Linked DNA regions of Homo sapiens: region 1 is linked to region 2. Evidence: fine-mapped expression QTL. Tissue or cell type: lung. Region 2 holds a variant in brackets; the other region holds the start of a gene. All regions are shown on one strand. Distances are between the middles of the regions. Region 1 holds the start of CMBL (carboxymethylenebutenolidase homolog). Region 2 overlaps MARCHF6 (membrane associated ring-CH-type finger 6).

Evidence for each region. PIP is the estimated chance that this variant, and not a neighbour inherited with it, causes the effect. A credible set is the group of variants that fine-mapping cannot tell apart.
Region 1: it holds the start of CMBL, and the variant in region 2 is the best candidate, but not a certain one, in a credible set for the expression of CMBL in lung (TOPMed, PIP 0.60).

What each region holds. Positions count from the first base shown.
Region 1 is chr5:10,306,179-10,309,091 of GRCh38, forward strand. CMBL (carboxymethylenebutenolidase homolog) reads right to left here and starts at 1,724. Exons shown (of 6, transcript NM_138809.4): 1 at 1,447-1,724. RefSeq lists an enhancer at 1,002-1,502.
Region 2 is chr5:10,385,836-10,388,748 of GRCh38, forward strand. It overlaps MARCHF6 (membrane associated ring-CH-type finger 6), which reads left to right. Exons shown (of 26, transcript NM_005885.4): 5 at 1,159-1,231. Among named protein-coding and RNA genes, the nearest start is that of MIR10397, 15 kb to the right of the region's middle. The variant C/T (reference allele first, on the strand shown) is at 1,570.

The DNA of each region.
Region 1 (2,913 bases), 80 kb before region 2:
CTGATTTCACGCCCTAAGGATTCAAATAACTCACAAGTCAGACTTCCAGGCACAACGCAGTTCTCCAACAGAAATAGAGAAAACAGATTTTGACAAGCAAAAGGGACTGGTGCAGTTGGGATTATAACAAGCAGGGAAGTCTAGGAATACATCTCCAGCCTCCTGGGAGAGCCTGAGCCCGGAGGGGGCAGAGAGGAGGAGGAGGGAGGTCTGGGGGAAGAGAGGTCTGCAAAGTAGGGGAAGGGAAGGCCAGGAGGGAGGGAGGCGCAGCGGGGAGGAGAGGAGAGAAGGGAGGAATACATTTCTGGAAGCTTTAGAAATTTAGAAATAGAAACCACGTGGAAGTGCATCCAGGGCTCAGGGTTACAGAGGACCCCAAGACAACACAGGAAAGTGGGGTCTAATGGGAAAGGCAGGAGGTTTCTCCTTTACTGCTTAAACATTGTAGGAACTTGCATGGCAAGTGATTTTCAATCTTGCAGCAGGGAAGGCAGGGCCAGTACTTATCCTTAGATGATTCTACAAACATCAAACTTCTCCAAATATTTATTTTTCAGCAGCCATGCTTGTATTTTCCAAGTGTCTATGGTCGAGATAGCATGAATTAGGAAGCTACCTGGATGAGCCCACAATGGCCCTCTTAGACATGCCAACGACGCCCCTGCAGAATCTGCTTTTTCTCTGGCTGTTCCTAGGCCTGGATAGGGTTCCCAGGCCTGGACAGGATTCCCCGGATACCGGCGAGGCTCATTACTAACCACTTTATTTTAAATGGGCTTTGAAAACAACAGGTGGCATCTTCCATCAGCAAGTGGACATAAATCTCAGTGCCCAGTGTTTCCAAGGCCTGCCCGACCCACATGGCTGTGGGGTGTAAACTGTCCAGTCGTTCCTGGCACACCTACCCAGCATTTAGGATGTCCCACTCTTAGATCCATAGACCCAGCACCTCTCTTCTTAATACCCACCCTAAAGAAAAGCTGTCGAATGTGGATGCTGATTTAGTTGCAAATATGCTCAGTTTTTTAATAGTTTTATATTAGTAAAAACGCTACAACCAGAATGTCTCACTGCAGGAAGAGAGTTACAAGGAGTATTTAACGGCATGGTGGAAAGGCTCCTCCGTGCTAAATGGCCAAAACGAACGCAAGTTTGCATACGGTGTGATTTCCACTATGTCTTTAAAATGCATGGCGAAACACCTACAGGAAAATACCAAAATGTAAACAGCGGCTGCTTCGGACGCATGGGATCGTGGAGGCTGCTGTTCTGCAAGGACAACGTATCACTTTTATGAAAGTCAGCTTCTGAAAACGGACTATGGGAAGTTCCTTACCCGTGCACGCGGCAAAGACCTTCTTTGCCATAGTCAGAACACACGCGGGAGTTCAGAGGAGCGGGGCCCGGGCTTGTGTGGGCTTGTGTGCCCCGGGGACGCGCACGTACCTTGTCCCGCGGCCTGAGACTGCGCTGCACCGCGCGGAGGCCGAACCCAGAGGAGGCGGCGTGGCGCCGGGCGGGGACGCGAGAGGGACGTGGACGCGGCGACCGAGGACGCGGGGATCCTGCGGGACCAGTGGCTCCAGTCGTAGCCTCCTGGGAGAGCCAAGCCCGGAGGGGGCGGAGAGGTGGAGGAGGGAGGCCTGGGGGAAGAGAAATCTGCAAAGTCGGGGAAGGGAAGGAAGGCCAGGAGGGAGGGAGGCGCAGTGGGGAGGAGACGAGAGAAGGGAGGGAGGGAAGTGTGAGGGGAGGGGAAGAAGTGGGGTGGTCGGAGGGTGGGGTAGGGAGGAAGAGGGAGGGAGAGATGGGAGAGGCTCCAAGATAAAGAAAGGTGCAGGGAGAGGGGGTGGGAGGGAGGGAACCGCAGAGAGGAAGGGAGAAGAGAATCAGGCAGCCTTGAGGGAGGAGGCAGGGAGGCCAGGAGAAGGAAGACAGCCAGCCTTCTGTGAGATTTACGTGCGTGCCTGGCTTCCAAGACAAGTAACTTCTGTTGTAAATACAAATTAAGCTATTTTTTGTTTATTTTATTTTATTTTATTTTATTTTATTTTATTTTATTTTAGAGATAGGGTCTTATTCTGTCACCCAGGCTGGAGTGCAGTGACACAATCATAGATCACTGGAGCCTCGAACTCCTGGCTTCAAGTGATCCTCCCCTTCAGCCTCCCAAAGTGCTGGGATTACAGGTGTGAGCCACCATGCCCAGCCACAATTTTTTTTTTTTTTTTTTTTTTTTTTGAGATGGAGTCTAACCCTGTTGCCGAGGCTGGAGTGCAGTGGCACGATCTCAACCTCAACCTCACTGCAACCTCCACCTCCCGGATTCAAGTGATTCTCCTGCCTCAGCTTCCCCAGTAGCTGGGATTATAGGCACGCGCCACCACGCCCAGCTAATTTTTGTGTTTTCAATAGAGACGGAGTTTTACCGTGTTGGCCAGGCTGGTCTCGAACTCCTGACCTCAAGTGTTCCACCTGCTTCGGCCTCCCAAACTGCCGAGATTACAGGCGTGAGCCGCCGCACCCGGCCCCAGCCCCAAATTAAGCCTTTTTTTAAAAAAGAAATTAATACACGTTTCATACTTGCCTCCTTCGTATTTTCTCTGGTCATCTGCCCAAGGTTATGACAACAGCTTCAACTTGGCTGCAGAAGCACACCCCTGTGGCTCACTCAAACTGGAAACATACAGGAAAAGGGAATTCTAGGAATATAGCTCAGCCTGGACAAATGGGCACATTAAAAAGCCATTGCACCGTGGTGGCCGCACTTCCTGCCATCCCCACTGCAAAGGTGTTGTTATGGACTGAATGTTTGTGTCCCCTCCAAAATTTGTACGTTGAAATCCTAACCACCCCGCCCATGGTGGTATTTGGAGGCGGGGCCTTTGGGAGATGCTTAGGTCATGAGGGTGGAGC
Region 2 (2,913 bases):
TGAAATAGGCAAAAGTAAGGACTTACAAGATTTAACAGTTATTAATCACAAGCTTGATTTCTGTTCTAATTTGTTTATATACAGATACACACAATTTAAATTACATCACACGATACATATTCTGTAACTTTTCTCTAGCTTAGCATCGTATCCTGGTGGTCTTTCCATGTACGTGAGTGTTGTGCTGTCTTATTTTTTTTTTTTTAGCGATACACAGCACTCTGTAGTAAGAAGGCCTGTTGCACATGAATCCATTTACCTATCTAAACATTTGGTTTGTCAGTTTTACATTGTTACAAGCATACTTGTCTGAGTATTTTATAAACATGTAAGTAATTTTTATTACAGAAAATCTTTTCCTACCTTTCCATTTTGACTTGGTTTTGAAAACAGCCATTGAAGTCACTGAAAATCTGATTGGAAGTCTCCGATACAAGGCTATATAGGGAATGCTTAAGCTAATACACAAATACTGGTTTGAAAGAAAGCCTCAGGTTTTTATTCTTGTGCCCCATTTTCAAATCTGTGGTCTGTTATCTCATTCTGTCTAGAATTCTGCTTTCCTGACTAAAAGACTTTCTGCCTTGATAGCAGTTCGTTCACCCATACTTTGTCTTTCTCTAAATGGCCAGAATTTAGAATAATTATATTCTGTATTTTAGAGGACCTGTGAATCTGTGCTTTTAAAATATTGGTTGTCAGGTTGCCATTTATGGCATTGCAGTACATACTCTACTGAAAAATTCTCTTAATTTCAAAGACTTATACCTCCAAAACTGAAACCTTTTATTGTCATGAGCAGACTTAATGAATTTTGGAATTCTAGAATTTAAAAAATTCTTTATATTATAATTTTGGAGATCTTTACTTTAGATTTTTCTTTTCAAACATCTAAGCTCATTCAATAAAAAAAAGCAACTAAACCTAGAGAGAATCTAAGTGCTAAACATGATTGTGTAACATTTACTCTTCATTGTCACTATATTTGTGCTTGACTGTGTTTTTAAAAATTTAATATTTTGAGACTTAGGCTTGTAAAGACTAAATGTTTATTTCAGTGGCATTTGTGGCGTTCCACTTTACCTCTGCTTTCTTGAGCAGCTATGTGAATTCATGATGCGAGTTGTGACTGTGTGCCATCATGCTCTTTTTCGGTAGGCCGCATCTACAAGTGCTTGTTTACTGGCTCCGTGAGCTCACTACTGACGCTGCCATTAGATATGCTGTCAACGTGAGTATTGAACCTCTGTGACGAATGTTGCATGATGTAGATGATGCTTGCTTTTTTCCTTGCATATTTATTTTATTATAATTTGTAAATTCTTTTGTTTTGAGAACAATAATTTATGTCTATTACACTAACAGTTATAGCTGCAGTAGAAGTAGCTGATAAATGTAAATGACACTTCTTTTAAAACATACCTGTTTTATGGGACTGTTTTGTAATGATGGGATGACTTTTCTTTCTTTCTTTTTTTTTTTTTTGAGATGGAGTCTTGTTCTGTTGTCCAGGCTGGAGTATAATGGTGCGATCTCGGCTCACTGCAACCTCCGCCTCCTGAGTTCAAG[C/T]GATTCTCTTGCCTCAGCCTCCAGAGTAGCTGGGATTACAGGCACTCGCCAGCATGCCTGGCTAATTTTTGTATTTTTAGTAGAGACAGGGTTTCACCATGTTGGTCACTCTGGTCTCGAACTCCTGACCTCAGGTGATCCACCCGCTTCGGGCTCCCAAAGTGCTGGGATTACAGGCGTGAGCCACCGCGCCCGTCCGGGATGACTTTTTAAATAGGCTGTCACGCAGTTTGAGATACATACTACTGTCTTATGTTCACAAAAGTTTTTTTGTTTTGTTTTTTTAAATGGAGCCTCGCTCTATTACCTGGGGTAGGGTGCAGTGGTGTGATCTCTGCTCACTGCAACTTCTGCCTTCTGGGTCTCCTACTTCAGCCTCCTGAATAGCTGGGATTACAAGCATGTGGCAGCAAGCCAGGCTAATATTTTGTATTTTTAGTAGAGATGGGGTTTCACCATGTTAGCCAGGCTCGTCTCAAACTCCTAACCTCAAGTAATCTGCCTGCCTCGGCCTCTCAAAGTGCTGGGGTTACAGGCATGAGTCACTGTGCTTGCCCAAGAGTTCGTTTTAACATGTGTTTTTAACATACACATTTGAACTCAAATTTATTTTTTAAATGTTTTCCATGATTATTAGAATATAAATGCTAAGAACTTGCCTGTAGTTACTTTACTATATCTTGATATTAAGCATTGTTGCTTGCCTTATATTGGCAGGCTTCTTTTTCCCTCTCACCTGATAGGCTTGAGGGTCACCTGAATTGCTTTCATTAGACTACTCATTGACTCCAGAGGACCACTGGAAGCCTAGTGGGGCTAGTCAAAATAAATTATAAACATGGCTTGGTTTTAGCTGTCTTTTACAGTTTGAAAAATTGAGCCAGTTTTTCTGATAGCAGTTGTGACCAAACTACTTTTTTTCTGAGTAATGTTTTACACTCTCTATAGAATTTTTTTTCTGTGAAATTTTACTTTAAATTTCCTTAATGTCTTACCAGTTTCTATGTATTCTGTAGCTCAGTAATTGAGGTCATGTCTAGGTGCACTGTATCAGTTATCTATTGCTGCAAAACAAACTGTCCCAAACCTTAGTGGCTTAAAACAGCTACCATTTTATTTGCTTATAATTCTGGGGTCAGCAGTTTGGGCTGGGCTCAGCTGAGCTTTTCATCTATTGGGCTTGCCTAGGTCACTCAGCTGTTTTACTGGGACTTAATGATCTAAGATGGTTTGTCTGAGATGCCTTGGTTCTTCTCTTTGTGGCCTCTTATCTTCTAAAAGGCTAGTAGGGCTTCTTTACATGGTAGTCTCAGGGCAGCATTCTAAAAGGGCAAGAGAAGAAGC